Regions from separate parts of the Homo sapiens genome. Here regions 2 and 3 are each linked to region 1. Evidence: fine-mapped expression QTL. A gene starts in region 1. Each other region holds a variant in brackets. All regions are shown on one strand. Distances are between the middles of the regions.

Evidence for each region. PIP is the estimated chance that this variant, and not a neighbour inherited with it, causes the effect. A credible set is the group of variants that fine-mapping cannot tell apart.
Region 2: its variant is the best candidate, but not a certain one, in a credible set for the expression of ALPK1 in whole blood (INTERVAL, PIP 0.84).
Region 3: its variant is the best candidate, but not a certain one, in a credible set for the expression of ALPK1 in visceral fat (GTEx, PIP 0.75).

The regions. Positions count from the first base shown.
Region 1 is chr4:112,295,793-112,298,558 of GRCh38, forward strand. It overlaps ALPK1 (alpha kinase 1), which reads left to right and starts at 1,577. Exons shown (of 16, transcript NM_025144.4): 1 at 1,577-1,677. RefSeq lists an enhancer at 1,341-1,635.
Region 2 is chr4:112,441,501-112,444,266 of GRCh38, forward strand. ALPK1 (alpha kinase 1) reads left to right here. Exons shown (of 16, transcript NM_025144.4): 16 at 1-1,121. Among named protein-coding and RNA genes, the nearest start is that of NEUROG2-AS1, 72 kb to the right of the region's middle. The variant TA/T (reference allele first, on the strand shown) is at 1,226.
Region 3 is chr4:112,421,404-112,424,169 of GRCh38, forward strand. It overlaps ALPK1 (alpha kinase 1), which reads left to right. Exons shown (of 16, transcript NM_025144.4): 6 at 2,541-2,600. Among named protein-coding and RNA genes, the nearest start is that of NEUROG2-AS1, 93 kb to the right of the region's middle. The variant A/T (reference allele first, on the strand shown) is at 1,215.

The sequences.
Region 1 (2,766 bases):
CAAAAAAAGTATATATTGAAATTAAACCTTTCTGGCTGGGTGTGGTGGCTCACACCTGTAATCCCAGTGCTTTGGGAGGCCGAGGCAGACAGACCTGAGGTCAGGAGTTCGAGACCAGCCTGGCCAACATGGTGAAGCCCCACCTCTACTAAAAATACAAAAAATTAGCTGGGCGTGCTGGCAGGCACCTGTAATCCCAGCTACTCGGAAGGCTGAGGCAGGAGAATCGTTTGAACCCAGGAGGCAGAGGCTGCAGCGAGCCGAGATTGTGCCACTGCACCCCAGCCTGGGCAACAAGAGCGAAACTCCATCTCAAAAAAAAAAAAAAAAATAGAAAAGAAAAAAGAAATTAAACATTTCTGTTTTCTGTGACCATAGACTCTAAGTATTAAACTTTCTTAAAGATTGAATTGTACAAGTATTGATTCATAATTGATGAAGAAGACAAAAATAAAATGGTACGTTTTGATGAATATTAAGTGATAAAATTTATTCAAGTGTCACTTCTCCATAAGATTTCTGGAGTTTTAAAAAATTAATTCACAGCTGAATGTTACTTATAGTTGGAATAAAACAACATTCCACAAAAATATACACATGGAAGAGGAGAGGAACTGTGTTTACATAAATAAATAGAGATAGAATTTTGTTATAGCAATGCCATTTGGTTATTTAAACTTCTAAGGTCATATATTAAACATTACATAGCGATCTATCACACAAAAAAAATGTGTTTTAAGTGATCGAGCAACTGACTATTCAACTATTTCCTCCTATTTTGTTGTAAACAATTGACTTGCCAAAGCATTTATGACCCAGCTTTTGGAGTCCTTCACTCTCTCAGTTTCTAGGAAGTATACCAAAGGCTTTACCAAAATGTATCAAATGACTATTAATAAAACCTATTATTCCTTCACTCTAGAGGAAACTTCTTTAACCCAGCAGGCTCAAAAAGGATTGAGAAAATTAAAATATTGTTTATGTCAATAACTTTTCCAATAAAATATATTTTGACATTTAGAAATCTTAGGTACTTTTGATTTTTTTGTCAAAATTTCGAGTTGCAGATTTCAGTTGTTCCATGGAAGGACAATGTCCACTGTGTAACTCAATAAGACACTTTTCACTGTCAAACTAGTCAGCCTAATCAGATATTCTATCCAAAAAGTCCTAACTTTATTTTCCAGTTCAGCAATATATGTGTCTCTGTGATAACAAGCTCACTTCTAAGACAGAGCACAGAATGAAGCCTTAATGTGCATCTGTCTTTTGCTAACAGATTTCAACAATGTCATATTCATTGTTTCTTACTGACATTCTCTCTTCTTGGCTCTAAGAGGACTCTCCATTCTTAGTCTAAATAATAAGTTTTTCTTGCACTTTCATTAGGAGAAGGAACTTTTCTGTAGTAATACAGCTCCCAGAATACCTTTCACCGAAGCAATTCCTAAAGGGGTGTGTCTTATGGTGCAAGATTGCTGAAAGTCCCGGAATTGAATTACACAACCATATTCTGAGACAGTCACAGGATTGGTTGTTTTTTTTTTTTTAATTCCTACTTCCTGAAACTGAAGCCGTTTATGAGAAACAGTGTGTTTCAGAGAGGCTGTACCAGAATTAACTCTGCTCAGAGTTAGATTTGCTGGTCTTAAAGTACTTTTCCTCTTTAAGATAAAAGTGAGTATCATCCTTTAAATGACAAAACGCAGTAGATGGCATAATATATGAGGAAGTATTTGTCTTAAGTGTTGACTCAGTTTCCATCTGCTGATCTTGTTTATATTTAAATAACTTTAGAGCTCTAAGAACCTTTGCACTTCTATAATAGAAACTTTCCAGAAAGGGGAGGATGAGTTGGTGGGGTGAAGGGGGTGGAGTGGGGAAGGGGAGGGAGAGAAGGGAAAAGTTACCTACAATGGTAAACTGTAGTCATTATGAAGGGGAGAAGGCAAACCAGTTTTTCATAAGGTTTTAATAACAAGTTTCTTAAGTCACTGAGCTTCTGGTCTTGTCACTTAACTGAGATGTTTAATTAAAGGATTGTTAGGATTATTTGTTTAAAAAAAAACTCTATGACTTTTGCCTGGAATACATAGGTAATAATAGAAACTACCACTTTTATGACAGCATCAGTAATTTTGCTAGGAAACAGGTAGATAAGGCACGAGACTTACTCGTCTCATATGGGTGAATTGACGGGAATTCTGAGTGCGTGGAAGCATTGTTTAGAGACAAAGCATCCAGAAAAATTAAATTCCTTTGCATGTCTATTTAGAAAAATCCTTTAATTAAAAAATTCTAGTGTTTGAAATTAGTACTTTAGAGTACTTTGAAAAGCCACAAATTAAAACCTTTAAGATGGTTTGGGATTTGAGGATGGGTGAGGGTACAAACAGGCAGGATCAGGAAGGAGAGGACTTTATGCCACAATATAATAGCATCTCTGCTTGCGATATATATTTCTCTCTCTCTCTGTCTCTCTCTCTCTCCCTTTTACTTTCTTTTTACTTTGTGCCACTAATTCTCTTATAAGAAACAATATCCATTTAATTTGGGGTATAATTTATGCACTTGGGATACACTCTAGTCTCTAGAACCAATGTCAAGTCCAGTCCTTGTCTGCTGACCGAAACAATTTACTTCTCTCTTCCCACCTCCTTCCCACCCCATCAACCTCAAGCCTCAAGAGAAACAAAATACTTAAACTTATTTTAGAAATAACTTATTCCCCATATCAAAGATCTTTTAAATCTGAGATGAATCTCT
Region 2 (2,766 bases), 150 kb after region 1:
TTTTAGAGCTTTTTGTCACTATCTGTCAAGACTGATACTACTGGGGCTTTTCCTATTGATTTGGGAGTTCTTTACATATTAAAAAAATGTGAGCCTTTGTGATACGAATTCAATTTGTTTTCCTGTCTTTTGACATTTGACTTTGCATAAAAGTTTATCTGTGCATAATTTTATATGTAGTTGAATTCATCAATCTTTTATTTTGTATGGCTTTTTGGTTATGTATAATACTTAGATCCTCCTTATACTCTGAGTTTCTTTCTTTTTAATTCTCCTGTATTTCCTTCTAGTATAATTAAATCTGTAAAAAGTAAGATGGAAGAGTGGTACAGTTTTCTTTATCCAGTCTGTCCTTGATGGGCATTTAGGTAGACTGGATAAAGAAAATGTGGTACATATACACCATGGAACACTATGTGTATTAATCCACTCTCACACTGCTATGAAGAGATACCTGAGACTGGGTAATTTAGAAAGAAAAGAGGTTTAATTAACTCACAGTTCCACATGGCTGGGGAGACCTCAGGAAACTTACAATCATGGCAGAAGGCACCTCTTCATAGGGTAGCAGGAGAGAGAATGAGTGCCAGCAGGGGAAATGCCAGATGCTTATAAAGCCATCAGATCTTGTGAGAATTCATTCACTCTCACGAGAACAGCATGGGAAAAACTGCCTCAATTACCTCCTACCAGGTCCTTCCCATGACACATGGGAATTATGGGACTACAATTCGAGATGAGATTTGGGTGGGGACACAAAGCCAAACCATATCACAATGTAACCATAAAAAAGAATGAGATCATGTCCTTTGCAGGGACATGGATAGAGCTGGAGGCCATTATTTTTAGCAAACTAATGCAAGAACAGAAAACTAAATACCACTTGTTCTCACTTATAGGTGAGAGCTAAGTGATGAGAGTAGGTGGACACATAGAGGGAACAACACACACCAGGGCTTATCAGAGGGTGGACAGTGGGAGGAGGGAGAGGATCAGGAAAAATAACTAATGGGTACTAGGCTGAATACCTGGGTGATGAAGTAATTCGCACAACAAACCCCCATGACACAAACCTGCACATGTACCCCTGAACTTAAAATAAAAGTAAAAAAAAAAAATCATTGAATATTGTGAACTCTATGAATATACCAAAACCATTGGACTAGACACTCAAAGGGTGAATTTTATGGTAGGTAAGTTATACCTCAATAAAGCTTTTTTTTTT[TA/T]AAAAAAAGAATAGTCTTGCAAAAAAAAAAAAGAAGAAGAAGAATGATACATTTTCCTGGCTACCACAGTCCATCCCTTACCCTACACAGATCTACTTCTTCACACAGGTTTAGGAAACAGCTCCTCCATGATCTTACTGAAAGAAACAAAAGGGCGACTAGTGAGATAAACCAATTCTTTTCTGCAGTTATTCTTGGGGCTGCAACTGGTGCTCACTCTCCCTATCCTCCACTGTTCATTCTAAGTTTCCCTCAGCCTTAACTATTAACTCAGGAAGTCTGGGTGGCTTACCTGGTTGGTGAGACTCAAACTTACATACATGATCTTCATGTATCAAGTCCAAACATTTGATAGTTTATACTCTTCTCAATTTGAGGTTGCTGCACATGTCTCTTCACAGTTGCAGTTGAGGCAAGGAAGACCCATTCCAATCTCCTGCTGTGGGGATCACAGTTGATTGACACTCCCAGCTTTCACTCCCCTGAATCCATCACTGTGTTTATGCTGAAGCCATGTTGCCCTCAATGTGCTGTCAGCCAGTGACTAAGCATGACAAGGACACTAGTCTCAGAATATTTCTAACTGCTGACTGTGACTGTGGAACAAAGTCTTAGCACTGGCCTAACCAAAACTTTCTTAAGGCCGGGCGTGGTGGCTCAGGCCTGTAATTCCAGCACTTTGGTAGGCCGAGGCAGATGGATCACCTGAGGCCAAGAGTTCAAGACCAGCTTGGCCAACATGGTGAAACCCCATCTCTACCAAAAATACAAAAAAAAAAAAAAAAAAAGCTGGTCATGGCTAATTTTTCAGGAGGCAGAGGTTGCAGTGAGCTGAGATGGCACCACTACACTCCAGCCTGGGCGACAGAGCAAGACTCCATCTCAAAAAACAAAAGCAAACAAACAAAAAAACTCTTTTCTTTGCTCTCTCCTTTTATAGGCATCAGGCCCACAGCATGGTCCCCTGCCTACTCTTGTTCCCTCCAACTGATCCTTTACAATCATTTCTCCCAATAGAGGTCTTTCATGTCTAATCCTTTCCTGGTATCTGCTTCTTGGAAAACCAAAGCTAATACATGCTTATTAAGGAAATGAAAAAAAAATGTAATCTATCCTATTAACAAAGTAAAGGGAGGAAATCATGTAATTTCACAAGATGTAGAAAATTATTTCATAAAATTCCAAATCAACTCATGGTAAAAGAAAAAAAACAAGCTCTTTGAAAACTAAGAATAAAGAAAAGGTTTCTAAATCTGGCAAAGGTTTTTTTATTTTAAACTTAAAACAGCAATACCATAATTAATAGTGAAGCAATTAAAACTTTTAAGTTGAGAAAAGGAACAAGACAAATTTGCCTACTATCCCACTTCTATTCAACATCATAGAAGAAGTCCAACTAATAAACATAGAAAGACTAAACTAGAAAATCATGATTTTGCATCCATTAATGAAATAATGGATCTGGGCAGAAAGCATTGATGGCTGGGGAAAATTAGATGGAGAACTTTATAATGGAGAAATCAGGCTGATGCTACTCACA
Region 3 (2,766 bases), 130 kb after region 1:
GGTCTTAACAAAGTGTTTTACAGCCACGCCCTTGGTTTGATCTTGACCCTAAGGTCACATTTTACTGCCAGTGCCCTGAATTTGACCTTTGCCCCAGGTTTTAATATTTTAAATTTATCTTCAGAATGTCTTGCTGTCTGGAAAAACTATTCTGGGCCGTCTTTATTTTCCCTAAATCTTGCTTAAAAATGGAATACAGTAGTCCCCCCTTATTCATGGGGGATACGTTCCAAGACCCCAGTAGATGCCCAAGCCTGATTGCCATTAATCAAGACACATTTCTGTTTATGTCTTCTACCCACCGATTTAATGCCTTTTCCATCTTAACTAAGCATCTATCACGCACGGTAGCCATACTTTCACAGTTGGAGATGTGACAGCAAAACTAGCACAAATCTCTTTTTCCTTCTTCACCATTTTTGGATAGAGGATGCATCCTTACCATAGACCTTAGCAACTTTGGCATATGAATTTTTTCCTTCTTTATTAAGTTGAGAATTTTCACCTTCTCACTTAAAGGAAGCACTTTACAGCTTCTCTTTGGCACATCCAAATTGCCAGCATCACTACTCCTGTCCTTTGCGGCCATTGTTAAGTAAAATACGGGTGACTTGAACACAAGCACTGCATTACCTGACAGACAGTTGATCTGATCATGGAGAGGTCTGCTAAGTGACTAATGGGTGATCATCGTAGATAGCATGGATCCGCTGGACAAAGGAATGGTTCATGTCCCAGGCAGGATGAGATTTCATCACGCTACTCAGAACGGCACGCAATTTAAAACTTATGAATTGTTTATTCCTGGAATTTTCCATTTAATATTTTTGGACTGTGGTTGACTGCTGGTAACTGAAACTGCAGAAAGGGAAACTGGGGACAGAGGGGACTACTGTAGTTTCTTCTTTAGGTTATTGCTTTCTTCCTGTACTTTATCTTGGGTAACTAAAAGATACACATTTTGGCACTTTCAATATCCTTCCTGGGTATCTCCCTAGCTAGACACCGAGTCCACTGGTTACATTTTGCTACATTCCACATTACTCCTGGAGACCATGTTGCCAAACTTTACAACACCGTATAATGTCTGTTCCCTTTCTCAAACTTCCAGGAACAATTTCTTCACTGCCTTTTGTCTCTGCAACACCCTTCAAGTCTCCAAAGTTTTTGTTATAGTAGTACTCCACTTTTAAGTGCATGATTTTTCCATTGCT[A/T]TGTTAAAAGCCACTCCATGACATAGTGGCTTAAAACAGTAATAATTCATTCAGTCTCATAATTTGTAGTTTGGGTGATTATTATAAGTACTGTCAGCTGGAAGCTGGGATAGCTAGAAGGTCTGGAATGGTTTCATCCACACAGTAGGCATTTGGTACTGGCTGCCAGCTAAGAGCCAAGCAGAGGCCTTGGGGGAGGGCCTCAGCTGTCCTCTGCATGGGCCTCTCCATGTGGCGGCCTCAGCTTCCTCAGAGCATTGGGCTAAGTTCCAAGAAGGGAAGGCAGAATTTAAAGATCCCTTAACGCCCAGACTTCTGCCACATTCCATTTGTCAAAACAGGTCACAGGGCCAGTTGTGTTCAAGGTGAAGGGAAATAAACTCTAGATTCCACTTTTTGATGGAAAAATGGCCAGGTCATCATTGCAAACGAGCGTGAAGAATGGAATATACTGGTGTGGTCTTTTTTGGAAATACAACCTACCACAGCCAGAGTGTATGTCTACGTATGTAATTTAAAATAAGATGGTCAGGGGAGGCCTTCAGAGACAGTGACATTTGAGCAAAGACCTGAAGAAGAAGAGAGGAAGCCTTGCAGATATTTGGGATGAAAGCGTTACACACTGAAATAATTGTAAATACAAAAACTCTGATGTGGTAATGAGCCTGGTCTACCCAAGGGATGATAAGGAGGCCACTGTGACTGAAGTAGAGGGCCAAGAAGGAAGGAATAAGTAGTTAGAGGTGAGGTCAAAGAAGTCATGAAAGCCAGATCATGTAGGGCTTAGAGGAACCTAGAGAAAGGAATGTTTGGTTAAAAGGATAAATAATTGTGTTTCCAACAGGTGTCCATAGAATAGGCCCTTCCTATGTGGTAGTAACAAAAATAAGTAAAAACTTGAGAAAGAATCTCCTCACTCCCCACCCCCAAATTCCTGCCAGATAATTCCATAACTAGTTCCTGTCCACGGGCAACTCTATTCCACTTCCTGAAGTATAGTTTTCACAGGGAGGCGGCACAGCCTGTTAGAAAAGTTTGCCTCTACTCCTCAAACCCTGCTCTATGTGAATGAATTATCACATACATATGAATCTAATTTTCATTTCAGATACTGTCCAACTTCCCACCTTACCAACTTAGGAAAACTTCATCTTTCTTTTCAGTTTTATAGATGATGTCATTGTTGATTTTAAATTATAAAATGGAATGCTTCCAAAGGAGGTTACAGTTCCTGCTGCAATATATCAGTCTTAGAACATGAACAACTTGTAATTGTTAAGTGCATGTTCAAAGCTAATTGTGTGGCATTTGGTTGCTGCTTTTCAGGAAAACTTTTAAAAGCAGAGTATATTCTGAGCAGTCTAATAAGCAACAATGGAGCAACGGGTGAGTACTTTCATATCTTCACAATGACTTTTACCTCAGCCCCGAACAGAGCACTCATTTAATAACAACTTAGTGACTTAATAGTTACTATACCTTAGATGTTTCCAGAGCTATCTGGGGCTGGCTCTGCCACTGATGAATGAAGAAGCTTTGATCAAGCAGCTTA